Linked DNA regions of Homo sapiens. The protein of the gene in region 1 purifies or fractionates together with the protein of each later gene. This does not show direct contact. Each region holds a gene or a part of one and is shown on either strand. Other genes may lie near its edges.

The links.
Region 2: the proteins of TOP3B (region 1) and POLDIP3 purify together in Homo sapiens (affinity purification with mass spectrometry; 2 studies listed by BioGRID and IntAct, with this or other methods). This does not show direct contact.

Annotation. Positions count from the first base shown.
Region 1 is NC_000022.11:21,972,229-21,988,047, forward strand, and holds the start of TOP3B (DNA topoisomerase 3-beta-1), read right to left. Parts: upstream 10,560-15,819; 5' UTR 10,502-10,559; exon of another isoform or gene 10,186-10,501; intron 3,960-10,185; exon of another isoform or gene 3,753-3,959; intron 3,580-3,752; 5' UTR 3,482-3,579; coding exon 3,412-3,481; intron 2,261-3,411; coding exon 2,129-2,260; intron 491-2,128; coding exon 384-490; intron 1-383. UniProt on the Homo sapiens protein: Releases the supercoiling and torsional tension of DNA introduced during the DNA replication and transcription by transiently cleaving and rejoining one strand of the DNA duplex.
Region 2 is NC_000022.11:42,587,667-42,603,485, reverse strand, and holds part of POLDIP3 (polymerase delta-interacting protein 3), read left to right. Parts: intron 1-325; coding exon 326-716; intron 717-1,378; coding exon of another isoform or gene 1,379-1,429; coding exon 1,430-1,516; intron 1,517-3,692; coding exon 3,693-3,788; intron 3,789-7,120; coding exon 7,121-7,300; intron 7,301-7,871; coding exon 7,872-7,949; intron 7,950-11,401; coding exon 11,402-11,531; intron 11,532-15,819. UniProt on the Homo sapiens protein: Is involved in regulation of translation. Is preferentially associated with CBC-bound spliced mRNA-protein complexes during the pioneer round of mRNA translation. Contributes to enhanced translational efficiency of spliced over nonspliced mRNAs.

The DNA.
Region 1 (15,819 bases):
TAACCCTAAATGATAACAGCAGTCGTCTTGGGTAATATGATTATGCATAATTTTTCTGTCTTTCTACTTATCTGCACTTTCTAATTTTCCATAATCTGTATGCATTTGTTTTAAAATTAAGGAGAAAAACCCCCCGACCAAACAAGCTATTTTAAAAGCAGAAGGCCTGCTCTCCAGGACTGAGGGTTGGCAATGGCAACTGCCTTGTGTGTTGGGGGTGCCTGCAGGTGCCTCGTGGGCCAGCAGGGGGCACTCACAGAAAAAGCTAGCAAAGGCCCCCCTGTCCAAGGGGGATTAGGACTCAAGCAAGGGTGGGCAAAGACATGGCAGCTGTGGAGGGTGGGGAGCCCCGGTGTGCTCATGCCCAGGCCAGCCCCACGCACCTGCAGGAACTTCACCATGTTCAGCTTGGGGTTAGCTTCTTTCTTCTCCGTGGGAGCTTGGCTGAACAGTTCTGCGGGGTCCACTTTGTCCCATTTGTTGTATTTTCCTACAAACCAGTCACAGTGACATTGAGTCACAGGAGCTCAGCCTCCGAGACCATCATAACCCCAGGAGGATGTTGGCCTCATCCCACAAATGAGGAGGGGAAAGCTTGGAGAACAATTTGCCCAGGGTCATCCTGATGATCAGAGGCAGAGCCAGGATGTGGGTTCAGGCCTTTGGTAACCCCCTCCCATCCAGCCTCCTTTCTGCTCGGCTGCTGAGCGGACCCACCACACCCCGGCCAACCACAGGAGCCAAGCAAGCTCTCGGGGGGCTGCCACTCTGGCCTCACTTCCGGGACTTTCCCTGTGGCTGGGAGCACCATTCCTGGGCTGGGTCTCTTTGCCTGAGCACTGGACCCCACAATGGTGCCTTCATTGACACTTCCAACCTGAGTTTCTGGAACTTTGTCCTTCCACCCAGCACTCTGTGGGGGCACACATGTGTGCAGTCGTTCCTGTTAAAGGACCATCTTTTTGAGCCTCATGCCCAGCACATTCACCTACTCATCTACAGAGACCCGGTTCTTGCATGCTCAGCTGTCTGGCTTTCTTTTAGGCCCCATTTCTTTTTTTTTCTGAGACAGGGGTCTCGCTCTATCACCCAGGATGAAGTACAGTGATACGATCACGGCTAACTGCAGTCTCGACCTCCCAGCCTCAGTCCATCTTCCCACCTCAGCCTCCCAAGACTACAGGTGCGCACCACCATGCCAGCTGATTTAAAAAGAATTTTGTTTTTTTTTTTTTTTGTAGAGACAGGGGTCTCACTATGTTGTCCAGACTAGTCTTGAACTCCTGGGCTCAAGCGATCCTCCCCAGGCCCCATTTCTTGCATCCTGGGAGAATGGGGTCAGACAGAGCCAAATTCAAATCCCGGCTCCCCACCTGCCAGTTGGAGATAAAACTTGGGGTCCAAATGCTCAGCCACACAACTCAGTCACCATCATTGTCATCACTGTCATCAATGAGCAGCAAGAACAAGGGCTGAGGCTTTGCTGTGTGTCGGGCCCTGTGCTGAGTGCTTTGCCCTCACTGTCACACTGAATCCTTAGCCTTGGGAAGCAGATGGCATTGCTGTGAGACCCATTTCACTATGAGAAGTGTAAACTCAGAGGCCGTCATTGCCCACATCCCCAGCCAGTGAGCCGGCAGAGCAGGGGGAAAAGCCTGGATCAGACTCTTGCCAACCACATGGCCCCAAACCTACACCCAGCAGGTCACTAATACTGGCGCTTCCAAGGTAATTGATAACAGTAACAATATAGGAATGACAACGACAGCCACCAAATGACCGACAGATGACGGTCAACTTGGCAACAGCAGCAGCCTTCTCTTAAATGCCTGCACAGGTCAAGCCCTTCCTAAGATAGGTGCTGCCACTTTGTCTACATAGGAAGGCACACAGGGAATGCAGCGACTAAGGGGTGCCGCTATGATGGGGACCCAGGGCTGAGTTCCAGAGCCTGGGTTCTGGGCACCGCACCAGGGACCCTCTCATTGCTACTTCATGATCTGCTGGCCTTATGACTCATGGAGTTGGGACAAACTTCCCTGCCTAGAGGCATCTCCTGGCTTCAACTGGACCCTGGCCAGTGCCATGCAGAACTCCCTTCAGTAGGATGGAGGGTAGAGGGGCTTACCCAGGAAATCCAGGGTCATCACGTGACCACAGACAGACGTCATCTTGAAGCGCACTGGCTGGCCAGCAAAGGTCCCAGTGTACTCGTGGACTGAGCAGGCCCCGTTCAGCCCTTTGTGTGAGGACAGGCTCCCTGGGGATGAGGAAGCACAAAGTGACTGGCTGCTTCAGCTGAGCTGAAGACCCTGTGGAGACCCCAGCCCGGATGCCACCTCCCAGAGGGCCAGAGTCCTCCTTCCCCAGAGTGGTGAGTGACGACATTCCGCAGACTGGTGCGGGTAGTTGGGCACTGAGAGGTGGGACGGCGCTCAGGGAAAACAGCATCTGCCAACAACCTAGCACAGAGCACTCTCGATGCAGAGCCCCAGGCTGCCGGGAGCCAGGAGCAGGCAGGGGTGGGCTCTTTCTCTGTATTTATGTTTTCACTCTTCAATTCCATTTTTGCCTCACTTCATTGAAACGTTATTCATCGTTTACTAAAACAGACTCCAGATCTACTCTCGGTTACCAGGGACCTTCTAATTATCGAATTCTCACCCTCTCCACTGACCATACTCAGCTGTACTTTCTCAGCTTCTGGGCACCGGGCACCACTTTTGGGGCACCGTCCCCTGCGGACCATGCCTTCTCAGCTGAACGAGGGTCTCTTCCCCTCTCAACTGCTGGACCAAGGGGAGGCCAGGTAGGTGCCTGTCATTTCTGGGTACCCAGCATCTAAAACTCTTCCTATTTGGAGGGAATTCAAAGATAGGGGGAAACAGCACCCTACCAACCACCCCAGTGGCCAGAGTTGGGGGTGAGTGGCAGACATTCCCTCTCGAGCTCCCTGGTGTCTCAGTAGTGCCTGTGGCCATAGCTCAGTCCATTGGCTACTCTGGAGTGACGTGAGGTCCACAGGACAGTGGGAGTATCCAGGGGTGACAATGCCTGGGGCATAGCCTCATCAGACCTTGACTGGGGTGTAGTCCTGGCTGCGTCTCCTTCCTTCCAGGGCTGGTTTCTACTACCTGTACCTAATAGCCCCACCAGGCCCAGCATATGGATAATGACTGTCCTTCAATTTCATTGTAAATTGTGCCTTGTGCCTTATGGGAACCCCAGCTTTGGCACATTGCCAGGAGTGGAAGCAAATGCACCCCACTGTGACATACTGAGATGCTTCATTACCACCTGCCGACCCGAACCAAATCTACCCCAGCCAGGGTGGAATCACATTAGGAAAAAATGTCCTGTAACACATAAACGACCGTGCTTACAGACCAAAGCAGGGCTGGTCTCTCCTACCTCTAGAGAGGATTTTGGCAATTGACTGTGCCAAGGACGGCTTTTCAGCAACCATGAGCACAGTCTTCATTTTGTCTCGGTCCTTCACACTCCAGTTTCGGGGCACTGGCAATGAAAAAGTTTAGACTCCACTCTTCCGCAGCACAGCACTATTACCAATGCTGACTCCTAAAGAGAAGAAAAGACACTCAGGATAGCAATGCTGTCAATAGAACCTACACCACTACAAGGAAAATCACTTTAACAAAGAAAAAACAAGACCAACCTGAGGCAAGAAGAAGAAAAATTAGGGAATTAGGGAAACTTGAAGACATCTGAGATTAAAAACAAGAAAAAACTACCAGGTCAGCTGAAGTGGCTGAGATGATCCTGGGAATGTGGCTCCATTTGGGGGAAGGTGAAGTGGCCCCAGTGATCTCAGGTCAATTTTATTCCTAAATCCATGCTAGGAAGATGCTGGGGCCTGGGGATCTGGAGTGATGGGTCAGGCCAGGTGGATGCCTGGCCCTCCTCTCTGGACTGGCTCTTCCACCTACAGGTGGACTCACCTGGAAAGAGGAACTATCGTGGCCGAGAGCAGCACCTCCCGCTCAGCAAAGCACTTGGACGCCCCAGGACACTTTACAAAATGCAGATGCCCAGGCTGGGCCCCCCAGGTCCTTCTGATCCATGATGGGCCTGAGACCCTCTGGCTAGTCGGTCCAGCCCCAAGCAGACATCAGGACTCTGTCACATCTATCTCCCACCTATTCCACTCCACCTTTTGCTTTGCAGGTCATGCTCTGGCCAAATTAAATCAAATATCATCATCGAAGCAAACACGCACTTGAAGCCTCTGTGCCTGCGCTTCCCTGCCTGAGAGAAAGCTCCGCCAGGCCTGGAGGATGCAGCTGGATGGCCCACAGGCCCAGCTCAAGTCTCCCAACACCACTGGCAGGGTAAGTCAGCCCTCCTGTGCCCACAGCTCTTGGGCTAGGTCTCCATTCCAACCCACTCACATCATGCCATCATCAGCGACTACTTCACCCCCAAAATAGGACACGATGGGCTTTGTGTCTGAATCACTGTTGGTCTTTGCAACAGCTTTCTGTGCCTGACACATGACATTCAATACCTGCTAGCCAAGTAAAAGAAAACCACATGAACCCTTTTTGTTTTTTCAGTCATTATAAATGTAGCACTGATGTTTATAAACATAGCACCGTATTAAAAAAGAAAAAAAAGACTCGTATTGAGACAACTGGGAAATCTGCTGTGAAAAAAAATAAAGTTAGACTCCTGCTTCCTAAATCCCACTAAAACCGATTCCAGATCTAGCAAAGGTTTGAGTAGAAACAATGAAACCAGAAAATATTAGGAAAAACATGTGCTTTTAAAATAAATCTCACAAGCCAGGTGTGGTAGCACATGCCTATAGTGTCAGCCACTCAGGAGGCTGAGGCAAGAGGATCGCTTGCTTGAGGCCAGGAATTCAAGGCTGTTGTGTGCCATGACTGCACCTGTGGATAGAACAGCCACTTCACTCCAGCCTAGGTGACAGCAAGACCCTGTCTCAAAAAAAGTAAAAGCAAAATAAAATAATCTCAGCATAAAGAAAAACTACCACCTAGATGGGCACAGTGGCTCACGCCTGTATCCCAGCACTTTGGGAGGCTGAGGTGGGTGGACCACTTGAGGTCAGGAGTTCAAGACCAGCCTGGCCAACATGGCAAAACCCCATCTCTAATAAAAATACAAAAATTAGCTGGGTGTGGTGGTGGGTGCCTATAATCCCAGCTGCTTGGGAGGCTGAGGCATGAGAATCGCTCGAACTCAGGAAGTGGAGGTTGCAGTGAGCCGAGATCATGCTATTGCACTCCAGCTTGTACAACAGAGTGAGACTCCATCTCAAACAAAAAAAAAAAAAAAAAAAAAAGGGAAAACCACCACGTAAGTACCTTTGTGGTATCACATCATGTCCAACAACACTCGCAGAAGAAACTCAGAACTACAATGAGCTTGTGCTTATCACATAGGGAGAGACTCAAAGTCGTTGCACACACAGCAGATGAGGGCATGGGGAAGTTAAATGGGAACAACCTCTATGTGCAGCAATTCAGGGATCCCTCTCAAAGTCCGAGTGCACATCCCAGCAATTCCACTCCTTGGAATGAACTTAATAGTCCAGTTATTTATTGAGTACCTACTGCATGCTTGGCCTAGTCCAGGATGCAGGGAATACAGCACAAAGCAACACCAGGTCCTGCCCTCCCAGAACTCATGCTGTAGTATGGGAGCAGGGGAGGGACAGGGCAGGGCTGGGTGACACCTGGGAGAAGAGTCCAGGCAGAAGGAGCAGGGAAGGTGAGGTCCTTGGGGAGGATATGGCTGGGCAGGGGGGCTCATGGGGCTGAGGGAGGGAGCAGGGGTGTAGAATGTGGGTCTGCTCTAGGGGTGCTGGGAGGCAGCAGAGGGTTTGCATAGGTGTGGGATAATCTGACTTCAAGTGTTAAAGGGACCTCTCTGGCTGCCACATAGAAGAGGATGAATGGGCCCTGGGTAGCAGTGGTGGAGGATGCGAGGGAAGTCAGAATCCAGGCAGACCTGGGATGGCGGGACATGGGAGGGGGAGGGGAAGGTGAGTCAAGAATGACCTGAGGCAGAGCTGGGCATGGGCTCACACCTGCCATGGGCTCACACCTATAATCCTAGTGCTTTGGGAGGCGAAGGCAAGAGGACCACTTGAGGCCAGGAGTTTGAGAAGAGCCTGATTAACACAATGAGACCTCATCTTTACAAAAAAGCAAAAGGAACAACCCATGGCTTTGGCTTAGGCATGACAGGAAGGGACTGGCAGTCTGATGTGGGACTTCAGGTGTGTTAAACGGGACCTGCCCATTGGACAGCCTGGGTGGCCTGGAGGAGGTGGCAGCAATGTGGAAGGAGCCCAGGCTGGGGGTCGGGAGATGAGGAGCTAGCAGGGTGAGTCAGGAGGGGTAAGGTCCTGAAAGCCACAGGAAAGAGCACTTCAGGGCAGTTATCACCATGTGGGGGACACTGACAGGCCAGGCGAGATGGCAGCTGAGACCTGACTGTAGGGTCTGGCAAACAGAGCCCTGGGTAATCCTGATGGGGCCATGTGGTGAGTGACAGATGAAAGCTGCATGGGGTGAGCTCAACAAAACCTGGGAGATGGGAGAAGGCTGGTGCACTGTCCCCTCTTGTTTCAGGATGGTGGCTGTGCCAGCATGTTCTCCGCTGATGGGACTGCTCTGGCGAGAAGGAAAAGAGAAGCTGCGTGCCGGAGGGGAAGGAACTGCTGCAGTGATGGCCTTGGGAGGGTGAGGGGCAAGAGAGGCAGCCGGTCAGCATCCAGGCGATGCAGAGCTGCCACAAGGCTGCACTTCTCTTGGTGGAGGAGGAGGCATGGTACGGCTGTCCACTGAGGGAGGACAGGTGGTGATGCTGCGGGCAGGCCCACAGCAGAGGAAGCACTGGATTTAGTTAGATGGGAGAGTCCAGGTGAGTAGGAGGGAGAGGGAGTGGGTCAGGGTTCGAGGGGAGAGATTACAAGGACAGAACCTGACTCTGAGTTGGGTGAAGAGGGAGGTGAGGGTTGGGGAGGGTCCACAGAGGGTGTGCTCTGTGGGGTCCAGGAAGTGAGGCACAAGAGCAGGAAGTGGGAGTCAAAGAAGCAACTCCCAGAGGGTGGGAGGCTCAAACAGGAATTACAGAGGGGCCTGGGTGGTGGCATGCTGACCCAGGGAGGGCAAGGGCTGTGAGACAGGTAGAGAGTGAAGTCACCTGGGGAGACTCACAGGAGTCAGTGGTGGGCCCTGACAAGACTGTCCATGTGGACTCTGAGTCCCCAGGAGGTAGGACAGGGCAGCGCTGGAGTGGCCTCAGGCTGGGCACGGTGGTGCCTGTGATGAACCACATCACTGGGGAGTTCTCTGCAGCATTATCAATCATGATAAAAGGTTAGAAACAAGCTGGTGTCTGTCAACAGGGAGGTGGTTAAATAAAAGCATGGCATTCTCTGGCCGGGCGCGGTGGCTCACGCCTGTAATCCCAGCACTTTGGGAGGCCAAGGTGGGCAGATCACGAGGTCAGGAGATCAAGACCATCCTGACTAACGTGGTGAAACCCCGTCTCTACTAAAAATACTAAAAATTAGCTGGGCATGGTGGCAGGCGCCTGTAGTCCCAGCTACTCGGGAGGCTGAGGCAGGAGAATGGTGTGAACCCGGGAAGCGGAGCTTGCAGTGAGCCGAGATTGCGCCACTGCACTCCAGCCTGGGCGACAGAGTGAGACTCCATCTCCAAAAAAAAAAAAAAAAAAAAAAAGCATGGCATTCTCTACAGTAGAGCACCTGGCAGCATTACAAAGGAAAGCATCTGCTTGGTACATACTAACGTGGATCAGATCACTGAAATAAATCATGCTAAGAAAGCTGGGCATGTAACGGTGTGTAGAGAGCACTGCCATCTGTGATCACACATATGTGTGCACACGTGTGCACTTGATTATGAAGAGGCGATATGTCTGGATGGAACGCAAAACAAACAGTCCAAGCAATCACCTGGAGTGGGTGTTAGGGCCTGGAGGTCAGGGCTGGGGGTGCCTCCTCACCACATTCCCTTTTGCACCTTTTACATTTAGCGCCTGGACACAGGTGACTGAGGGACAAGAACTAAGACAAGGGACTTTACAATAAAACCAGAAAAATAAAGGAGGGTTGTAAAGGGCATTGTTCAGAAAGGATGCCAAAGGAACTCCCTCACTAAAGGGGCTTCTGCTGCTCATCATGCTGTGCAGGGGAAGAGGTCCAAGGTCGGCCTTGGGCTGTCAACCTTGTTCCCCACTTAAGAGATCACAGGACTACAGTGAAATCAGTAATCTTGACCAGAAAGCTGTCCCAAATAAAATGACAATTTGCTTTTTTCCTCAAAATAAGTAAGTGGATGTTCCCCTTAAATGTACAACCATCCCACAGTGAAAGAGCCGAGGCCTTGTGGAATGACGACACTGTCTGCAGATGAGCTCTCTGGCCCATGACAGCTCCAGCTGCATCTCCCAAGGCTCTGCTGCGCACCCACCTTTCCTCCCTGTGCGCCAGCAGGCTTCGGCCTAGGCCACTTTTCCCCCTTAGTCTACTTGCTCTGACCCCTGCCCCTCCCCTCCTGAAGACTGCATCTGGCGTCAGCAGTCTGTCTCTCCCACAATTGTCAGGTTCATTGCCATATTTCTGGCACCCAGCATGCACTAAATGCCTGCTGAGGGAATGAATGAACAACCAAGGTGATTATGACTGGCCTCTGCTCTCCGTTCTGGGGAAGTTTTGATTCTACCAAAATCAGAGGCCCAGAAGTGAGGTTTAAAAGAGATTTAGGGACTCCCCTTCTCTCACCCTGGGAAGCCAGAGGCCAAAAGGGAAAACTCGCAGCAGAGGGGCATTGTTCTGTGAGGGTCTGAGTTTCCCATCTCTTCCAAAGTAGGAAATTTTGTCCTAAAATGTTTCCTCAGATTTTCTCATGTCTATGCCACAGAGTAGTCAGCAATTATGTATGACATAATGAGGACACACCAGGGACCAGGCAGTCCTGCCAGCATCCTAGGCAGGGATGCTAATAGGTGCTGCCATTTTATTGGCCTAGACTGGGACTGTGGGGTCAGAGAGACCAGAGCTCCAGTGGCTGGACTTGGTTGTTCTAGAACCCGTGCCCCAAGCCTGATCCTGTCCTGCCTCTGTGAGCACTCTGATGGAACAGCAGCCCAGCTTTGCTTCCTTGTAGCACTCATCACTACACTTGGTACAGCTTCCATCTACTTATTCAGCTCTTGTCTTACAGCTCCTAGAAAGTAAGTAAGCAGCAGGAGAACACGGGTTTTGCTTTGTGCATTCTCACGGTAAATAGACAGTGAGCAAATACTTTGCGAGGCTGAGGCAGGTGGATCACCCGAGGTCAGCAGTTCAAGACCAGCCTGGCCAACATGGTGAAGCCTGGTCTCTACTAAAAATACAAAAATTAGCTGGGCGTGGTGGCGCATGCCTGTAATCCCAGCTACTCAGGAGGCTGAGGCAGGAGAATCACTTGAACCCGGGGGCGGAGGTTGCAGTGAGCTGAGATCGCGCCACTGCACTCCAGCCTGGGTGACAGAGTGAGACTCTGCCTGCAACAAAACAAACAAAAAAAGAAACAAGCAGATGTGGCCTGGGAGTAGGCCTAGCAGTGGTCTGAATAGCATTAAAATTCCTAGGATTTACCACCTCAGTAACTTTACCAAATGCTTCTAGAATCAGGAAAAGAGGGAAACAACCATTTCTTAAGCTCCTCCTTTGTAGTAGGCACACCATAGCTATCAACACTATTCAATCTCGCCAGCAACCCCATAAGGCAGGTGTTGTAATTTTTTAAAACTGTGAGTAAATGGAGGTTCAGAACAAGTCACACTAGTGTCAGGTGACCTTGGCAAAAGAATCCCAGGACTGGCTGGCCATCAAGCCCAAGTTAGGCTGGCCTCTCAGGTCCTGTTTCAAAAGGTGAGAAGATAAAAAGGCAAGACTAGGAACATCTTACCTTTCACTTCTGCGAGAAATTATTGCCCCTGGATTCCAGCTAATTTGTTCACAAAAGTACCCTACTTCATTTACAGATAACAGGTCAGAGAACCTGGGTGCCCTCAAAACCCAGCCAGGGCCTAGGGGGCGGCGAGTGGAAGCTGCCTGGGTGTGTACCGCACCGATCTGGGCCCCGGTGGCTGCACAGCTTCCCTGAGCCTCAGTTTCCCTACCTGTGAGACTGGTACAGCAGATCTCACCCTAAAGAGCTGTGGGAGGGTTCGAAGAAGAAAAGTATTAACCACAGCGCCTGCTCCCTGCAGGCACATGGCGGGCCCATCTCCACCTCCCTGAACCCCCACAGCAAGCCCCGCGGGAGAGTATCACCCCCGCCAGGGAAGAGGCAACAAGAATGCAGAGCCCGGCCCGGGCGCTCTCCCGAGCTCGCGGGTCCTCCGCCGGCCAACGTTCAGGAAACAAGCCAGAAAAATGCGTGCGCTTCCCGCCTTTCTGAGCCGCCGGGCGAGGGTCCCGCAGCCCGCCGCTCACCCACAGCCGCACCGCGGATCCAGCTCCGGTCCTTGTTCCCGGGGCGGCTACCGACAACCCCTATTTCCGGGTCCAGCCGCTTCTGGCGTCCCCGCGTCCGGTGTGCCAGCGTCTGCCCTCCGGCTCCGGCGGGTCGGCGTTCTTAGGTTCCGTGGCTCGCGGATTCCGGGAGCACCCCAGGGAGTGGCACTTGCACGCCGCGGACCGCAGGGATCCCCAAGCCCTGCACCCAGATTCTTCCCCGCCACGGAGAGACAATCATGACAATTATCATTACAATGATTATGAAAACTGGCATGAAAACATTTATGCTGTTAATAATTAAAATAATAAAAATGTACCGATGTGTGTATAGCAGGCTTCTTTTCGATGCTGTAAAAAAATCTGTGGAATGAATGAATGATCTGTGTAAAATATATTTGGAAGATGAATTCTAAAATTAAGTTATTTATTTATTTATTTATTTATTTATTTTGAGACAGAGTTTTACTCTTGTCGCCCAGGCTGGAGTGCAGTGGTGTGATCTCGGCTCACTGAAACCTCCGCCTCCCAGGTTCAAGCAATTCGCCTGCCTCAGCCTCCTAAATAGCTGGGATTACAGGCGTGCGCCACCACGCCCAGCTAATTTATATGTGTATGTATATATATGTGTGTGTATACATATATATATATATTTTTTTTTTTTTTTTTGAGGCGGAGTCTCACTCTGTTGCCCAGGCTGAAGTGCAGTGGCGCAATCTCGGCTCACTGCAACCTCCGCCTCCCGGGTTCAAGCGATGATCTCGCCTCAGCCTCCCAAGTAGCTGGGACTATAGGCGCTTGCCACCACGCGGGCTAATTTTTTGTATTTTTTTAGTAGAGACGGGGCTTCACCGTGTTAGCCAGGATGGTCTCGATCTCCTGACCTCGTGATCCGCCCGCCTTGGCCTCCCAAAGATTTCTATATTTTTAGTAGAGACGGGGGTTTCACCGTGTTAACCAGGCTAGTCTTGAACTCCTGACCTTAGGTGGTCCGCCTCCCTCGGCCTCCCAAAATGCTGGGATTACAGGTGTGACTCTTCACGCTCGGCCAACTAATTTATTTGTTAGAGCATTAGGATTATGGAAGGTTTAAAATACGTTTTATGATCTTATTTTAAATAACATACACACATTGCCCTTGTTCCTTGTAGATTTTCCCAACCTGCTGTTTTTTTTTTTTTTTTTTTAAAGACAGGGTTTCACTCTGTCACCCAGGCTGGAGCGCAGTAGCGAGATCACAGCTCACTGCAGCCTCGATCTCCTGGCGTCAGGCGATGCTCTCACCTCAGCCTCCCCAGTAGCTGGGACCACAGGTGCCAGCCACCAAGCCCAGCCAATTAATTTTTTTTTTTTTGGTAGAGATGGGGTCTAGGGGGAGGGTCTCACTATGTTGCCCAGATTGGTCTCAAACTCCTGGCCTCAAGTGATCCTCCTGCCTCGGCCTCCCAAAGTGCTGGGATTACAGGGGTGAGCCACTGTCCCGGGCCCCAACCTGCCTTTATTGGAATGATCTGTGTAAAGTATATCTGGAAGATGAATTCTAAAATTAAGTTATTTATTTATCTAATTTATTTTGATAAATAATAAGTAGTCTGGATAGAGGCTCTGGAAAAAGAAAAGTTCTATAGGCAAATTAAGGTTTGGAAATGTCACAAATTATGAGTCACGGTGAGACTTCACTTTCAAAGCAGAACTCCTGATTCCAAACCCACACCTTGGTAGGTTCTTCGTCTCCAAAATGGCAACTCCATCTTCCTGGTTGCTCAGGGACAGAGCCTGGGAGCATCCTGGACCACCCACAAATCCTGCCATTACTGTCTTTACAATACAGATGCTCCTCAACTTCAGATGGAACTACATCCACATAAACCCATCTTAAGTTGAAAATATTGTGACTCGAAAGTACGTTTTTGACTTATGGTATTTTCAACTTACTATGGGCTTACCCAGATGTAGCCCCATCATGAGTCAAGAAGCGTGCAGAATGCATACTGGTTTTGTAGTTGAAAAATCCTGTAGGTGGAAATTGTCCTAAATCGAAGACTGTATATCGGAGATCCCCTCAAGTCTCCCTGCCTCCCTGCCACCACCCTGATCCGAGCTCCTCCTCTCCCTCCAGGTCTCCACCTTGCCGCCCTGCAGTGTGTTCTCCACATACCAGCCAGGGCTAAGATTGGCTCTGTTGGGTGCTACCAGTTGGCTGAAAGAGAAACCCAGAGGCCCTCAGCTCATTCCATCAATCCAGTTCCAGAGTTCATTGTATGGAGCCCTAGGAAGGACCTGAGGCCTGGGCCAGCAGGAGGCGCTGAGTGGTCAGCTCTGAAGGCCAGGGCGTCGGGAAGTGTTCTTGGTCAGAGCAGAGAAACTGCAGTTGCCTTGTGCTTTCTTCCCGGAGAGCCCTGCAGCTGACCCTCTGCCAGAGCTTTGGGTCAGGCTTTCTGACTGACCCTTAGGTTGACAAATGACCCAGATTCAGAGGAACCCTTCAACTTGGAGGTGTCTCCCTATTGGGACTCCCCCCAACCCCAGCTCCACTCTGACCAGGGAGATGGTGGCCTAGGATCGACTCAGCGAGAGGGGCCGTTCTTCTTTCCCCATGGCTGGGGAGAAACTGACTCCCCTAAAGAGTAGCAGCAGACTTGCCTGCAGAGGCCTCCTCTAAGGAGTGTGCAGAGGCCATGAGAGAAACTCAGGTGCCCAGACACCGCCATGGGACTTCAGGAAGCAGAGCCCTGGGGTGTTTCCACCATGGTCTTGACTTTTCTCCTCTTCCTTACCCTCCTCACTTACTGGGCAGGTGCCTGGTTATGGTGGATGGGATAACTGAGGGCTCCTGGACCTCTCTTCTCTCTGGTTCGGCATAGGCTGGTCCATGATTTTGATAATACTATTAATAGTTAACATCATGCAGTGCTTACTTACTCTGTTCTAGGCACTGTTCTGTTACTGACACAATCCTCATTACAACACTAGGAATTAGATATTATTATTATCCTTATTTTACACATAAAGAAGCAGGACACATAGGCCAGGCGCGGTGGCTCACGCCTGTGATCCCAGCACTTTGGGAGGCTGAGGCGGGCGGATCACCTGAGGTCGGGAGTTAGAGACCAGCCTGACCAACATGGAGAAACCCCGTCTCTACTAAAACTACAAAAAATTAGGTGGGCATGGTGGCGCACATCTGTAGTTCCAGCTACTCGGGAGGCTGAGGCAGGAGAATCGCTTGAACCCAGGAGGCGGAGGTTGCAGTGAGCCAAGATCATGCCATTGCATTCCAGCCTGGGCAACAAAAGCAAAACTCCATCTCAAAAAAAAAAAAAAAAAAAAAAAAGAACCAGCAGGACACAATGATGGAAGTGGCAGAGCAACCTAGTTCCAGAAGCCACTTTTTTTTTTTTTGACGGGGTCTCACTCTGTTGCCCAAAGTTCTGGGATTTATGGGCATGAGCTACCGTGCACAGCCTTAAAGATTACTTTTTTTTTTTTGAGAGGAGTCTTGCTCTGTCGCCAGGCTGGAGTGCAGTGACACGATCTTGGCTCACTGCAACCTCCACCCCCTGGGTTCAAGCGATCCTCCTGCCTCAGCCTCCCGAGTAGCTGGGACTACAGGCACACACCACCAAGCCCAGCTAATTTTTTAAATTTTTAAATATTTTTTTATTTTTAGTAGAGATGGGTTTCACCATGTTGGCCAGGATGGTCTTGATTTCTTGACCTTGTGATCCACCTGCCTTGGCCTCCCAAAGTGCTGGGATTACAGGCGTGAGCCACCGCGCCTGGCCAAGATTACTTTTTGAAGTTTGAATAAAAGGGCAATGAAACCTGCGCTGAAGAACAGGAAATTGACTGGCTGTGTGCTGAGGCCATCCTTCTCCCCTGTCTGGGAGGGGGACTTCTGTCACTCTGCTGTCCCCAGAAGTGGGTGGAGCTTAAAACGTCACAGAAGCCCAAGTCATTTGCAGGGTACATGGAGAAACAGCTCTTGGCAGCCTGTCCTATGACCTGAACTCAACATGTCTTTTTTTTTTCTTTGAGACGGAGTCTCGCTCTGTCACCCAGGCTGGAATGCAATGGCGCGACCTCGGCTCACTGCAACCTCCCCTCCCGGGTTCAAGCAATTCTCCTACCTCAGCCTCCTGAGTAGCTGGGACTACAGGTGTGCGCCACCACGCCCAGTTAATTTTTTAAATTTTTAGTAGACATGGGGTTTCACCATGTTGGCCAGGTTGGTCTTAAACTCCTGACCTCGTGATCCGCCCACCTTGGCTTCCCAAAGTGCTGGGATTACAGGCGTGAGCCACCATGCCAGACATCACCATATCTTTATACTCCTTTCTTCACAAAAGAAACAACTGAAGAACAACCAGAAGGTGCCAGCATATTCTGTGAACACCAGCAAAAAACCCACGTAAATAAATGGTGGCAAAAGTGAACTCTTTACACAGGAGAAGCTACCTCCCTGCCTCGCCTAAAATGTCAAAGGATATCATAGTGACAAACATGAAGCCGATATCCATAATAAATTTTATTTTGCCCAGTGACATAAAAGGCAAGTCAGATTACTGTTGGAATGATGAATTGTGTTGATTTCAATTCTTTATAATATTTTCTTATTTTAAGAAGAAATTCTTGTAGTGGTAATTTTGGGATATGACTAAATGAATGTGCCTTTCATGTGGAAGAATAAACAAACAAGAATATTGGGCCAGGCATAATGGCTCATGCCTGGAATCCCAGCACTTTCAGAGGCCAAGGTGAGGGGATCACTTGAGGTCAGGAGTTTGAGACCAGCCTAACATAGTGAGACCCTGTCTAAAAAAAAAAAAAAAAAAAAAAGATTAGCTGGGCATGGTGGCATATGCTACTCAGGAGGCTGAAGCGAGAGGGTGGCCTGTTCCCAGGAGGTTGAGGCTACAGTGAGCTATGATTGCACCACTGCACTCCAGCCTGGATGACAGAGTGAGACCTTGCCTTAAAAAAAAAGTCAAGGAGGATGAGGAGAGAATGGGGAGATAAAAATGTTACCAGCTAGTACAAAGCCACAGGAGCCCAAGACAGGCCCATGAGATAGATGGAAATGAGAGAAGGAACATCTCTGAGAGCTCGCCGCAATAGCCATGTTGGAAAACATCTGTCCACTCATATCTTCCTTTATTCTCACACTCATCCAGTATTTTTTGGGTACCTACTAATTTCCAGGCATTGTGGATACGATGGTGAATGAAACGGAAAAAAAGTCTGCTCTCTTGGGCCTTACTTTCTAGTGATCTGTGATAATTATCTCAGAAAATGTA
Region 2 (15,819 bases), about 21 Mb from region 1:
ATTTTATTTGACTGGCATTGTTGGGAAGTTATTGTCCATGTTGGTGTCTCAAGACACGTGGTCTAGGAAGCAAAACACTCTTAACTAGGAATAAAACTTGCCAGCCCCTCTCTCTTAATTTTGCTTAAAATGCAAAGTTAAAAGCCATCATGAAACCAGGAAAGGAGTCATCATGTAGGCATAATCGTTTATTCAATCACAGGCAAGGAGCCGCTTTCTGATTCTCCAGGGCCTCCTCTGTCCCCAGTGTTACCACAGTTCCGCTTTCATAGACTGCTGTAGATACCCAGATCCACTTAATATTGATTGCAATTTATATTTACAGGCTTAATGCCAGACCGGGAGTTGGAGGTGTCCGATCTCGAGTTGGGATCCAGCAAGGCCTTCTCAGCCAGTCAACACGCACAGCCACCTTCCAGCAGAGATTTGATGCCCGGCAGAAGATTGGCCTCTCAGATGCCCGGCTCAAACTGGGAGTCAAGGATGCCCGGGAGAAGCTTTTGCAGAAAGATGCCCGATTTCGAATCAAAGGGAAAGTGCAGGATGCCAGAGAGATGTTGAACTCTCGCAAGCAGCAGACCACGGTGCCCCAGAAGCCCCGCCAGGTTGCTGATGCCCGGGAGAAGATCAGCTTGAAGAGGAGTTCCCCTGCTGCCTTCATAAACCCACCCATTGGGACAGTGACCCCTGCTCTGAAGCTCACCAAAACCATCCAGGTGAGTTGTGGCTTTTGTCATGAATTCCCAGAAAGCTAGTAACAAAGGTAGATTTAGAGGCAAGGTGCCAGGAGTGACTGGGCAAAAATACTATCCTCTCAAGTGTTGGCATAATACAGACTTTGCTCCTTACAGAGGCTTTAAGTACGTTATAGCCAAGGAACTATACAAGGAAGGAAAGGTATTATCTCAGTTCTAAAAAAAAAGAAAAAGGAGGCCCATAGAAATTTGGTGACTTTCCCAGGTGAGATACTGGTGGAAGAAAGAGAGAGGAAAGGACAAAAGATTTATTGAGCACATGCTATGTGGCAGGCCCTTAATATCTGTGACCTTACAGTCCTCACTCCACCCCCAGGCCCAGTGGGATTTGGCCCCTAGTCCAAGGCCCTGGCCACCCTTCACAGCTGCCACCACAGAGGGAAAGGAAACAATGTCATTTAACCTTCATAGCAGCTTTGGTAATAGGAACAGCAGCGGCCACAGCAAACATTTACTGAGCCAAGTCCATTAAGCCCTACATGTGCGTTACCGGCATGGTCTCTGGATTGATGATTCTTCTGTTACTTCCTACTGTGGAGGATAAGGCCCTCTGTAGTGCCTTTTACCAAAGACCAAAGCTGCATGCCCACCATGTATCAAGTTCAGTAACCCCCTTCTTCTAGAGAATGCATGTGGACCCTGTGGGGTGGATTCTGACCACTGAGTGTTTCCAGGTTCCACAGCAGAAAGCCATGGCACCACTTCATCCCCATCCTGCCGGAATGAGAATCAATGTTGTCAATAACCACCAGGCCAAACAGGTAGAGTGAGTGAGTGAGAGAGAGAGAGAGAATCTGTGTGTACATAGCGAACATGTAGGTGTGCACGTGTTTTGATGAGGCCTACTTGGGTGGATGGACTGAGGCTTGCTCAGTTGGTAGTTCCCAGTTGGTAGTATTGGAGGCAGGGTTACAGCGAACTTTTTGCAATTTGAGTTTAAAGAAGAAATTTTTTTTATTTTTTTATTTTTTGAGACGGAGTCTCGCTCTGTCGCTAGGCTGGAGTGCAGTGGCGTAATCTCGGCTCACTGCAACCTCTGCCTCCCGGGTTCAAGTGATTCTCCTGCCTCAGCCTCCTGAGTATCTGGGACTACAGGCGCGTACCACCACACCCAGCTAATTTTTGTATTTTTAGTAGAGATGGGGTTTCACCATGTTGGCTAGGATGGTCTCAATTTCTTGACCTTGTGATCCCCCCGCCTCAGCCTCCCAAAGTGCTGGGATTACAGGCGTGAGCCACCACACCCAGCCAAGAAGAAACTTCTTAATAGAGGAAGGGAGGCATAGGGGGCAGAGAGGCTAAAAAAAGTTTTGTTTGTTTTTTTTAATTTTTTTACGCTTTTTTTTTTTTTGTCTTTTGTTTTGTTTTTTTTTCCTTTTTCTGGAGAACGGGGTCTCGCTATATTGCCCAGGCAGGTCTCGAACTCCTGGGCTCAAGCTATCCTCCCGCCTCTTAGCCTCCCTGAGAGCTGGGATTACAGGTGTGAGCCACCGCGCCCGGCCTAATTTTTTTAAATAAAAGTTCTATGTGCTTAATATAGAAAACTTGCCAAAAAGTCCCTCAAGTTCCTATTCTCCAAAGCCAGTCACTGTTGAAATTTTGCCATAGTTCCTTACATGTACGCTTCTTTTTTTTTGATACAGGGTTTCACTCTGTCCCCCAGGCTGGAGTGCAGTGGTGCAGTCATGGCTCACTGCAGCCTTGAGTTTCTGGGCTCAAATGATCCTCCCACCTCAGCCTCCTGAGTAGCTGGGATCACAGGTGCATACCACCACATCTGGCTAATTTTTGTAGAGATGGAGTCTTGTCATGTTGCCCAGGCTGGTCTCGAACTCCTGGGTTCAATCGATCCTCCTGCCTCTGCCTCCCAAGTAGCTGGGATTACAAGCATGAGTCACCGCGCCTGGCTAATTTTGTATTTTTAGTAGAGACGGTGTTTCTCCATGTTGGTCAGGCTGATCTCGAACTCCTGACCTCAGGTAATTCGCCCACCTTGGCCTCCCAAAGTGCTGGGATTACAGGCGTGAGCCACTGTGCCCAGCCCCAGTCTGTTTTTTACTTAACTCATAGTTGTGGTTGTGGTTATATATTCTTTTTTTTTTTTTGAGACCGAGTCTCGCTCTGTCACTCAGACTGGAGTGCAGTGGCACGATCTCGGCTCACTGCAAGCTCCGCCTCCCGGGTTCACACCATTCTCCTGCCTCAGCCTCCCGAGTAGCTGGGACTACAGGCGCATGCCACCATGCCCGGCTCATTGTTTGTATTTTTCGTAGAGACGGGGTTTCACCATGTTAGCCAGGATGATCTCGATCTCCTGACCTCGTGATCCGCCCTCCTCGGCCTCCCAAAGTGCTGGGATGACAGGCTTGAGCCACTGAGCCCAGCCATGGTTATATTCTTATCCAATTTTGTATCATTCTTTTTTCACTTTGTAACTCAAGCATTTCTCTGTGACATTTCATATTTACTGTACATGTTTTAGTAACTGCAAAATCTATATAGTTGGCATTCCAGTTTTATTTAAACCATTTTCCTGTCATTTTCACTGTTAGAAATCCTTCTGCTGTGAACATCTTTGTAAATAAAGCTCTTTCTAGGGTTTGGATTTATTTCTGTAGGTCATATTAACAAGGATGGACTTTCCAAGCCAAAGGATATAAAGAAACATTTTAGGGACTCTTGGTACATACTGCCCACTGGGAAAAAGGGACTTCTGATGTATCTGGAAGTTGTAGGACTTTCACTGGGTCCTTGCTGACAGGGAGTTAGCCTGTGAAGACTTGGGCCCCAGTCTTTCCAGGCACCGTCACCCCTGTGCCCACTTCTCCTTGGTCCCTTTGTTTCTCCAGCAGCCATTTCCTTGCCATGCCTGTTCTAGATGTCTGTTGAGGGCCCAGATGCCACATTTGCTTATATTTCTTTATGTTATATTCTCAGAATTTATATGACCTGGATGAAGATGATGATGGTATAGCTTCCGTTCCTACTAAACAGATGAAGTTTGCAGCCTCAGGCGGCTTTCTCCACCACATGGTATGGCATTTCATGTTTTCTTACACTGCGTGTCTGATCAGGCAGGTGGGAGAGGTCGTGTTGAATAGAACCTGTTGTTTTTTTTGTTTTGAGACGACATCTCGCTCTTCTCCCCCAGGCTGCTGGAGTGCAATGGCGCAATCTTGGCTCACTGCAACCTCCGTCTCCTGGGTTCAAGCTATTATCCTGCCTCAGCCTCCCTAGTAGCTGGGATTACAGGCGCCTGCCGCCACGCCCAGCTAATTTTTGTATTTTTAGTAGAGATGAGGTTTCACCATGTTGGCCAGGCTGGTCTCAAACTCCTGACCTCAGGTGATCCGCACGCCTCGGCCTCCCAAGGTGCTGGGATTACAGGCGTAAGCCACTGCGCCCGGCGTGAATAGAGCCTTTCAATGCAGAAATATTTCTTTGTTTGGGCCGTAAGATTTTCAGAGCTGGAACTAGTCCATTCCCTTAGTTTTATAAACGCTGAGACACTGGGGTGCCTTCTGATTTGTTCAAGGTCCCACAGCAAGTGAAGTACAGGGCTGCAGCTCCTAGGTGCTGTGTTTGAGACACTATAGGGAAAGTGTGAGTGATCCCACAGTGGGGAGTCTGTGTTCTTTCCTTGGTGGCTGGCCATTCTGCATGCTTCGTAACCCTTTGTGGTCAGCAGCTCTGGCGCTGCTCTTGGAGTCTGGATTCCGTTGGTTAACATTAGCAGGAATACATCTCACCTGATCTGTGGGCTCTACCAGGTGCAGCCTGCATGCAGGGAAAGCTTGCTAGGCTAGAGTGTTGGTCAGACATCATGCAGAGAAGGAAAGAAAACAACATCTGGGATCATCAGGGAGGTCCATGCTGCTCAGCTCAGTGGTACAGCCAAGTGTCAGACAGGGAGGCCAGTGGGCTGCCTAGGTGGGTCCTTGTGGCAGCCACCTCTTTTGTTTTTCCTTCAGACGCTCAAAGACTCAGTTTTGGTTACTGTCCTGAGTATGTGGACCAGCCTCCTGGTTAGTAATTAAGAGAAATATGGGCCAGGTGCGGTGGCTCACGCCTGTAATCTCAACACTTTGGGAGGCAGAGGCGGGCAGATCACAAGGTCAGGAGATGGAAACCATCCTGGCTAGCACGGTGAAACCACGTCTCTACTAAAAAATACAAAAAAGTTCGGGCGTGGTGGCTCACGCCTGTAATCCCAGCACTTTCGGAGGCCGAGGTGGGTGGATCACGAAGTCAGGAGATCGAGACCATCCTGGCAAACATGGTGAAACCCCGTCTCTACTAAAAATACCAAAAAATTAGCCAGGCGTGGTGGTGTGCGCCTGTAGTCCCAGCTACTCTAGAGGCTGAGGCAGGAGAATGGCACGAACCCAGGAGGTGGAGCTTGCAGTGAGCCAAGAGGCGCCACTGCACTCCAGCCTGGGCGACAGAGCGAGACTCTGTCTCAAAAAAAAAAAAAAAAAAAATATCCGGGGTGTGGTGGCGGGCACCTGCAGTCCCAGCTACTCGGGAGGCTGAGGCAGGAGAATGGTGTGAACCTGGGAGGCAGAGCTTACAGTGAGCCGAGATTGTGCCACTGCACTCCAGCCTGGGCGACAGAGTGAGACTCTGTCTCAAAAAAAAAAGAAACATGAAGCTGGCTCGGCGTGGTGGCTCACGCCTGTAATCCCAGCACTTTGGGAGGCTGAGGTGGGCAGATTACCTGAGGTCAGGAGTTGGAGACCAGCTTGGCAACATGGTGAAATCCCGTCTCTACTAAAAATAAAAAATTAGCTGGGCATGATGGCGCGTGCCTGTAATCCCAGCTGCTCGGGAGGCTGAGGCAGGAGAATTGTTTGAACCCCGAGGTGGAGGTTGCAGTGAGCCAAGATTGCGCCACTGCACTCCAGCCTGGGTGACAGGGCGAGACTCCGTCTCAAAAAAAAAAAAAAAAAAGAGGTCGTGAAGCTGAATGATGCCAGTTTGTTTCTTTACAAAGGGACCAGGCCTTTCCAGTAATTAGACTGCTCAAGTCTGCTATCAAGGGAACTATCAGCTTGCTCAGTGAGTCTCTATCCCTATTTGATACCCTAATTGAATAAATGCCATATTTATACTCATGCGTCTTGTACCCTGTGAGATGGGTACTGTTGATTACCCTCGTTGATGGATGAGGGACAGGCATGGAGAGGTGAAATAAGCCTGTTCAACATCACCCAGCTGATGAGAAGCAGTGGATCTAGGAATGGAGCCCGAGCAGTCTCGCTCTCAGGGCCCTGTGTGGAGTCACTGTGCTGTCCCAGCTCTGGAGACGCAGAATTCCACATGAGGAATGTGGAATTCAGCATGGGGATGACGCTGCTTCACCCAGACTTGGAGGAGCGTGGTGAATTGCCCGTGCCCATGCTCTGATGTGCCTCTCTGGCCGCTGCGTTCCTCCTTTCTCCCTGCCCTGGGTCAGTGCCTGTAAACACTGCCCTAAATCAGCAGGGCCCCCGTCACTTCTGCTTTATGCACCTTTTTCCTCAGACACATTAATACAGGGGAGTTTTGTTTCCAAGGGACCACATCCAGATGGAGGGGCTGTTTTTGGTGATCTGCACTGCCAAATGCCCGAGTGTCCCTGACAGTCGGAGCTGATGAGGCCAAGGCTGTGTGTGGTTCCTCTGGATGGCCAGAAGAGGAACCAAAACACTGAATTCTGGGCCTTCTTAAGAGTGGTGATCAGCACATTGTGATAGAAGCATATCTGGGAATGAACTTGGCCTCAAGCTTTTGGCCTTTTAATTTTTTTTTTTGTAAGCAAAAGCAGCTTTATTAAGAAAACAAAGGAATAAAAGAATGGCTACTCCACAGGCAGAGCAGCTCTTTTACATTTTTTATAGAGATGAGGTCTCACTGTGTTGCCCAGGTTGGTCTTGAACTCCTGGCCTCAAGCAGTCCTCTCACCTCAGCCTCCCAAAGTGCTGGGATGGCAGATGTGATCCACTATGCCTGGCCAAGCTTTTGGCCTTCTGACCAGCCTCATATTGTAGAATTTTTAGAAAGTCTAAGTGGTGTGGGTGAGCCTGTGGCTCCTGGGTAATTTTCCAGGTCAGGGCTGTATGGAAGCTTCCTGCCAAGAGCTTCTAGCACTGTGGGGAGTGGCTTCTGTGAGTGCGCGTTCAGGCTGTGTGTTTTTCTCTCCCCCTGCCCCTTCCCTATGGGATGTCACTGGCAGCCGGCAGCCTTTTTGGCTCCAGACCTCTAATAGAATTAGAGAGCTGGGAGGCATCGAGGGTTCATGCTCTCAGCAAGTTGTCAACCTCTTGGGGCTTCTTCAGAACATTGCAGGTCTGGCTTCTCAGATTCTTTTCTGTCTCTTCGTTTAGGCTGGGCTAAGCAGTTCCAAGCTTTCCATGTCCAAGGCCCTCCCTCTCACCAAAGTGGTTCAGAATGATGCATACACAGCTCCTGCTCTCCCTTCCTCTATTCGAACAAAAGCCTTGACCAACATGTCCCGGACACTGGTGAACAAGGAAGAACCCCCCAAAGAGCTGCCAGCTGCTGAGGTGAGGTGATGGTGGTGACTGCAGCAGTTGGGGTCAGGAGGGCTGTATGCTTATATGTACCTCATTGTGTTCCCCACAACGCCTTTGTGAGGTGGGCATTGCCACCCCCATTCTACAGATGAGCAAACCAAGACCTAGGGACTCTTACCCTCAAAGACCTTGCAGGCTAGTGGGGACGGCAGACCTGCTGAGAGATTGCGGTATCTGGTGATATGTTAGACTCTCTCAGAAGAAAGCTATTAGGAGGGCTGAGGACAGATTATCTCATTCCAGTTGGGAAGTCTGGGAAAAAGGGCTCTTTTAGCTGAGTGGGTCTGGAAGCATGAGTAGCCTTCCAGGTAGAGGCTCAGGGCCTGAGAGGCTTGCGTATTTGGGAGATGGGAGAGGGTCCATGCTTTTAGCATAGAGTGATGGGGGGTGTAGTGGACACTGAAGTTCAGGGGGCCCATTTGTGGTAACTCTCCATGGAGCTTTCCTCTGGGCCTTCCTAGTCACGTGCCTGGAGGAATTTCTGTTGTGGGAATGCTTATCAGCCATCTGGCTTCTGGTAATGCTCTTGTCTGTGTGGCAGCCTGTTCTCAGCCCATTGGAAGGCACCAAGATGACTGTGAATAATCTGCACCCTCGAGTCACTGAGGAGGACATTGTTGTAAGTACTGTGACCTACCAAACATTTAAATCTCAAACTGCCTCTGTGGCAAAGGTCTCTTAAGACCCACCCTCAGGTTTGATGACTGCTAGGACTCACCAGACTCAGCATATAGTCACGCTCAGGGCTGAGACTAATGACAGCAAAAGGATGCAGAGCAAATGGCTCATGGGGTGAAGTCGGGGGGAAACGAGGCACAAGCCTCCAGAGGCCCCTCCCAGCAGAGTCGCACAGGATGCTGGGTGCAACTCGCAGCAAGTTGTGACAATACATGTGACACCAGGGAAGCTCATTAAAGACTCAGTACCCAAAGGTTTTACTGGGGGCTGGTCACTTCGGCATTCTCTGTGTAGCATGTACTAAAATTCCAGACTCCCAGAGGGAAAGCAGCTGTTGAGCAGAAACCATGTTGTTTGCACAGTCCAGGCACAGTGAACTGTGGGGTGGCAGGAGCCCTCCTGAGATCCGAGTTCTCAGATGCCAGCCAAGGGCCACCCCTGGAATCGGACCTTTCAAACAATAGCAGTCAGCCCAGCTGCTTCACTCTTCTGCACAGCTTCTAGCCAAGGCCAGGTGCCTGGCCTGAATCTCAGAGTCAGGGGATATCTATGCTATAATGGGTCCTAAATGGGATCCTTTAGTCCCACTGGGCAGTATCCAATAGTTGTGTTTTCCTGTGTCCTTTGGAGGTATTACAAGATGATTCCAAAGTGAAAGAAGTGAGATGGATTGGTGGTATCCACCTTCCTGGTCCATCCCGTCCCACCCATGGCAGTCATGGGCAAAACCTGTCAAATGTCTGTGAGCGGGGTTCTGGATGCAGCTAGGACTTCTTTTCAACATCATTTTCATTCAGGCACCCAAAAGAGCCATTAGTTTAGAAATCCAGGCATCCTTTGAACTGTCAGATCACAAAATGAATACGTTTGGAGAATCCAGCCTCTCCCTGCAGTTAAGTCCCAGACTAACAGACTGCACTGGTCACTACATTTGTTAAATCTTTTTGTTTTGTTTTGTTTTGTTTTTGAGATGGAGTCTCACTCTGTCACCCAAGCTAGAGTGTAATGGTGTGATCTCGGTTCACTGCAACCTCTGCCTCCCAGGCTCTAGCAATTCTCCTGCCTCAGCCTCCCGAGTAGCTGGGATTAGAGGCGCCTGCCACTACGCCTGGCTAATTTTTGTATTTTCAGTAGAGGCAGGGTTTCACCATGTTGGCCAGGCTGGTCTCGAACTCGTGACCTCAAATGATCCACCCACCTCGATTTGTTTTTTTTAAAGATGGAGTCTTGCTCTGTCGCCCAGGCTGGAGTGCCAGTAGTGCGATCTTGGCTCACTGCAACTTCCGCCTCCTGGGTTCAAGTGATTCTTATGCCTCAGCCTCCCTGGTAGCTGGGATTATAGGCGTGTGCCACCACACCCGGCTAATTTTTGTATTTTTCAGTAGAGACGAGGTTTCACCATGTTGGCCGTGTTGGTCTTGAACTCCTGACCTCATGATCTGCCTGTCTTGGCCTCCCAAAGTGCTGGTATTACAGGTGTGAGCCACTGTGCCCAGCTGAGGTTAAATCTTAATTGTGAAACACACGCATGCCGTGAGATGGGTCACTCGTATCTCCTTCTCCTTTAGCAGGGACAGTACTGTGAATGGTGCACGTGAGGATGGAAATTGTAGCCTATTTTGTGTAATACTTGACAAGTCATTAAGAATTAAAGCTGATTGCCGGGTGCAGTGGCTCACGCCTGTAATCCCAGCACTTTGGGAGGCCAAGGTTGGTGGATCACCTGAGGTCAGGAGTTCGAGACCAGCCTGGCCAACATGGCAAAACCCTGTCTCTACTAAAAACAGAAAAATTCGCCAGGCGTGGTGGCACGTGCCTGTAGTCCCAGCTACTCAGGAGGCTAAGGCAGGAGAATCACTTAGAACCTGGGAGGTGAAAGTTGCAGTGAGCCGAGGTCACGCCATTGCACTCCAGCCTGGGTGACAGAGTGAGACTCTCTCAAAAAAAGAAAAGAATTAAAGCTGTTAAGGAGCGTAATAACAACTGCCATTTACTGAGTACTTGCTATGTGCCAGTCACTTTAGGCAGACTCTTGGAAGATACATAATGGTGGAAAACTAAACACCAGTCATGATCAGTGCTCAGGGGAAATTGCTAGTAATAATCACCCTCGCTTCTCTTCTACCCAAATAGGCAATGTTAAAAGGACAATGGTAATAAAATTGGAATTACACCTACTATTTATAGTTGGCCCTCCATATCTGTCGGTTCTGCATCTGTGGATTTAGCCAACCACTGAATGAAAATACTCAAATTTTTAAAAATAACAGTATGATGAGAAATAATACAAATTTTAGAAATACAGTATAACTATTTATATAGCATTTACATTGTATTTGGTATTATAAGTAATCTAGAGATGATTTAAAGTATAGTGGATGATGTGCATAGGTTATGTGTAAATACTACAGCATTTTATAGCAGGGACTTGAGCATCTACAGATTTTAGTATCTGCGAGCGGTTCTGGAACCAGTCTCCTGCAGGTGCAGAGGGGCATCTTGTTTTGATATTTACCATTAAAAACAAACCATGTCAAGGACCTTTTCATAAACCTTCTTTTGGCCCTCACAGCAACCTTGTGAAGGCAGTTGCAGGTGAAGAAATGGCGTGAGTGCTAGTCAGCCTCTGTCCATCTTCACATTTTGCTCCCTCTCTGGCCTTAGTCGTCTTGTCTGTAAAATGAGGTGGAGATCGGACTCAATGATGTGTGCAAAGCACTGCCTTAAAAATTATCTCAGTTGAGCTTTCCAGTAAAGCTGGGAAGTAAGCTAGTCCTTTTTATTTTCAGAGGAGGAAACAGGCTCAGAGAAGTTAAGTAATTTGCTAGACGTCTCATAGCAGATAGAAAGCAGAGCCTGGGGGATCAAACTCAGGTCTGACTTAGAGTGACCAACTGTCCCTGTTTTGCTGGGGACTCTCCTGGTTTCATCACTCAAAGTCTCATGTCCAGGGAAACCCTTCAGTCCAGCCAAACCAGGACTCTGGGTAGAACTCCAGAATTTGTATTTGTAACAGATTCTCAGGTGACATATTAGCAGCTGTCTTTCTTTGTATACATGTATTCTAATGACAGGGCTCTTTGCGAAAATTTTCATAACTGTTTTATCCCTGTTGAGGTGGGCACTGAAGACTTTGGTGGTGGCTTGCTGGGAGATCCCAGGTGATCCAAGGCTTGTAAACCCAGCCCCTTTCCCACTGCTGACCTCATCTGGTGCTGTGTTGAAGCCTGTGGATGTCTCCAGAGCACCACCTCGCGTGGAGCCTCCCCGCAGTCTCAGGCGCAGGGCGCATTTAGCTGCAGCGGAACCACCACACCCCAGGGCCTTCAGAGTGTGTGAGCGGCAGGTGCTGAGAAATCCTTCCCCAATCCCAACCCCTCTTGTTGTGTGCAGGAGCTTTTCTGTGTGTGTGGGGCCCTCAAGCGAGCTCGACTGGTCCATCCTGGGGTAGCGGAGGTGGTGTTTGTGAAAAAGGACGATGCCATCACCGCATATAAGAAGTACAACAACCGGTGTCTGGACGGTAAGTTAGGGAGAAAGCAGTCCCCTGACCCTCCCACTCATCTCTACTTGCTGTCAGGTAGCAGGCCTTCCAGGGGAAGTCTCTGTGAGATGGGTGGAACCCATCTCTGGGGCCTCGTCTGCACCAGGAACTGCCGTGCAGTCTCTGAGTAGTCCTGAGCTGTGGGTTACACAGGGCCCTGGATTTTCACCCAGCCCTTAAGCTTTTGAGCCCAGCAAAAAGGAAAACAGCATTTCTCCATGGATGGTTCTCTTAAGGGGTCTTGCCAGGGGAGCCAAGAGGCACAGCTGTTGCCTCCCAGATGTTGATCTGTTTAGTGCTAGGGCAGAAGTTCCTCCCAGCCCTGGAGTTTTGTCTGAATGTTGACACCTGGGTGAGAGCTGCTCCTGGTGGGTAAACAACAGACTTTATTGACTTGAGGTTCATATTTTTCATCTCCAGACAGCCTGTAGAGAAGAATTCTGTCTGCCATGCTCCTTTTCCACTCATTTGTTCTTTCAGTATGTATTGAGTGCCTACTGTGGACCAAGGCCCTGTGCTAGAAGTGGAGAAGCAGAGACTAATAAAACAATACAACAATAAAAAAAATTACAAATAAAAGACCTGGAGCCTTGGCTAAATCTTGGCACCTGGGTGAACTCCCCTGGGTGAGTCAGTGGAGTTCTGATTTGCATTTCCCCATGGCTAATGATGTTGAGCACCTTTTCATGTGCTTATTGGCCATTTGTATGTCATTAAAGAAATTAATTTTGTTTTGAATTTCTGTTCTTTTTTTGTTTTTTCTTATTTTTTGTCATATGTTTGGATGTGGAAAGATACTTATTTTCCTTTTTCTTTCTTTTTTTTATTTTTATTTTTTATTATTTTTTTATTTTTTTATTTTTTTTGAGTTTCTCTCTGTTGCCCAGGCTGGGGTGCAGTGGCGTGATCTCAGCTCACTGCAACCTCCGCCTCCCCGGTTCAAGCGGCTTTCCTGCCTCAGCCTCCCAAGTAGCTGGGACTACAGGTGCACGCCACCAAGCCCAGCTAATTTTTTTGTATTTTTAGTAGAGATAGGGTTTCACCATGTTGGCCGGGCTGGTCTCAAACTCCTGACCTCAGGTGATCTGCCCACCTCGGCCTCTCAAAAGTGCTAGGATTATAGGCATGAGCCACTGTGCCCAGCTATCTTTGGAGAAATGCCTGTACAGAATCTTTGTCTGCTTTTTAAATACTGAGTTGTAGAAGTACTTTACATATTCTTAAGTCCCTTATCAGATAAGTGATTTACCAATATTTTCTCCCATTCTGTAGGTTTATTTCTGCTTTTTAATGTATTCATATGCAGTATAAGGACTTTTTGGTTAACAGCAGACCACATATATGACAGTGGGCCCATAACATTATAATACCATATTTTTACTGTATTTTTTCTACGTTTAGATGTACAAATACAGTTGCCTACTCTACTCAGTAGAGTAACATGCTGTACAGCCGGGTGTGGTGGCTGAAGCCTGTAATTCCAGCACTTTGGGAGGCTGAGGCAGGAGGATCGCTTGAGCCTAGAAACTTGAGACCAACCTGTGCAACGTGGCAAGACCCTGTCTCAAAAAATAAATTAGCTGGGCGCGTGGTGGCGTGTGCCTGTAGTCCCAGATGCTGGGGAGGCTGAGGTGGGAGGATCACTTGAGCCTGGGAAGTTGAGGCTGTAGTGAGCTGTGATCGTGCCACTGCACTCTGGAATGTATTCCCATGGTTAAATGATACATGACTGTATGTGCATTTACAGCTATATATTCTAAGCATGGCTGTAACTGCATTCCGTGTTTTGGTATATCATGCCTTCATTTTCATTCATCTTGAATTATTTTCTAATCTCCCTTGTGATTTCTCCTTTGACCCATTGGTTATTTAGGATTGTTTCAATTTCCATATATTCATGAATTTTCCAGATTTTCTTTTCTTCTATGAGTGTTTAAGGAAAATATGTATTTTCTTGTTGTTAGGTGGAATGTTCTGTACATGTCTATTATGTCTTGTTGCTTTGTAATGTTTAAGTGCGTTTCATTGTTGATCTGCTTGGTTCTATCTAGTATTGAAAGTGAAATACTGAGGTTCTGTTTTTTTTTTTTGATACGGAGTCTCCCTCTGTCACCCAGGCTGGAGTGCAGTGGCATGATCTCAGCTCACTGCAACCTCTGCCTCCCGGGTTCAAGCAATTCTCCTGCCTCAGCCTCCCAAGTAGCTGGGATTACAGGTGCCCACTGTCACGCCCAGCTAATATTTGTATTTTTCGTAGAGATGGGGTTTCACTGTGTCAGCCAGGATGGTCTTGATTTCCTGACCTCATGTTGGCCAGGCTGGTTTTGAAGTCCTGACCTCAAGTGATCCGTCCACCTGGGCTTCCCAAAGTGCTGGGATTAGAGGTGTGAGCCACTGCACCCGGCGAGATCTTTATTACTGTTGGTCTGTTCCTTTCACTTCTGTGTATTTTTATTTTATATATTTGAGGTTCTGTTGTTACTTGCATATATGTTTGATTGTTTTCTTCCTGATGAATTGACCCTTCAGTCAAATTTAAATCTCTCTTTACCTCTAGTCACTTTTTTTGTTGTTTTAAAGTATATTTCATTTTATATTACTAATAGCTAATAAGCTAATAAGTAAAAGACCAGCTTTCTTAGGGTTGCTATTTGAGTGATATATCTTTGTTCACTTTTTTTTTTTTTTTTTGAGACGGAGTCTCGCTCTGTCGCCCAGGCTGGAATGCAGTGGCATGATCTTGGCTCACTGCAACGTCTTCCTCCCAGGTTCAAGCGATTTTTGTGCCTCAGCCTCCTGAGTGGCTGAGACTACAGGTGTGCACCACCACACTCAGCTAATTTTTAGTATTTTTAGTAGAAATGGGGTTTCTGCCATGTTGGCCAGGCTGCTGTCAAACTCCTGGCTTCAAGTGATCTGCCCATCTCAGCCTTGCAAAGTGCTGGGATTACAGGCATGAGCCACCAAGCCTGGCCCACTCTTACTTTCAATCTTTTTCTCTCATCAACTGTAAAAATGTGTTTCCTAGGCTGGGCACAATGGCTCACTCCTGTAATCCGCCAGGCGGATCACCTGATTGGGAGTTCGAGACCAGCTTGACCAATATGAGGAAACCCCATCTCTACTAAAAATACAAAATTAGCCAGGTGTGGTGGTACATGCCTGTAATCCCAGTTACTCCGGAGGCTGAGGCAGGATAATCGCTTGAACCCAGGAGGCGGAGGTTGCCGTGAGCCGAGATCGCACCATTGCCCTCCAGCCTGGGCAATAAGAGCGAAACTCCATCTCAAAAAAAAAAAAAAAGAAAGAAAGAAAAATGTGTCACCTATAGAGAGTGTATAGTTAGATCTTACTGGTTTTTTTTTTATTTGAATTCAATCTGACAATCTGTCTTTGGATTGGATTATTTAATCCATTCATATTTAATATTGATAATTAGGTTTATTTCTTCCATTTTACTTTTTTTTTTTTTTTTTTGAGGTGGAGTCTCGCTCTGTTGCCCAGGCTGGAGTGCAGTGGCATGTGGTCTCTGCTCACTGCAAGCTCTACCTCCCAGGTTCACGCCATTCTCCTGCTTCAGCCTCCTGAGTAGCTGGGACTACAGGCGCCCGCCACCACACCCAGCTAATTTTTTGTATTTTTAGCAGGGACGGGGTTTCACCATGTTAGCCAGGATGGTCTCGATCTCCTGACTTCGTGATCCACCCGCCTCAGCCTCTCAAAGTGCTGGGATTACAGGCGTGAGCCACCGCGCCCGGCCCCATTTTACTTTTTTGTTCCTCTTCAGTGGCTTTTCTTTCACATTTTTTCCCCAATATTTTAATTCCTTTAATGATGTATTCACTAACTTAACTCGAGTAAGATATGGAAATGTTACTCCCACATGGCCCTGTTCCTTCTTCCTCTTTTTTGTGCTATTACCGTTACACATGTTATGCTTTGTATACAGTGGGAGTGTGGTCTTCCTAGTGCTTCATCCTTTGTAGACAGAGTAGAAGCCTGTACATAATGCTTTTGATCATCTTTTCACTGAATTTGATAGCATAAACCTTTTCCCTTACTACTTGGATGGCTTCACATTGAGTCTCGTTTCTCCCTCACTTCCCACTCATCTCTTCCTGTATGAAGCAAGGTTTGTGGCCACTTTGCCTCTTGGTGCTCCACTGCTGAGGTTTCCTCACGCCCTGGGATTTTCTTAGTGTCTGGCTTGACTGGAACCTAGCAGCCCCATCTCCATCTGTGGAGCCAGAACTGCCAGTGGTGGGTG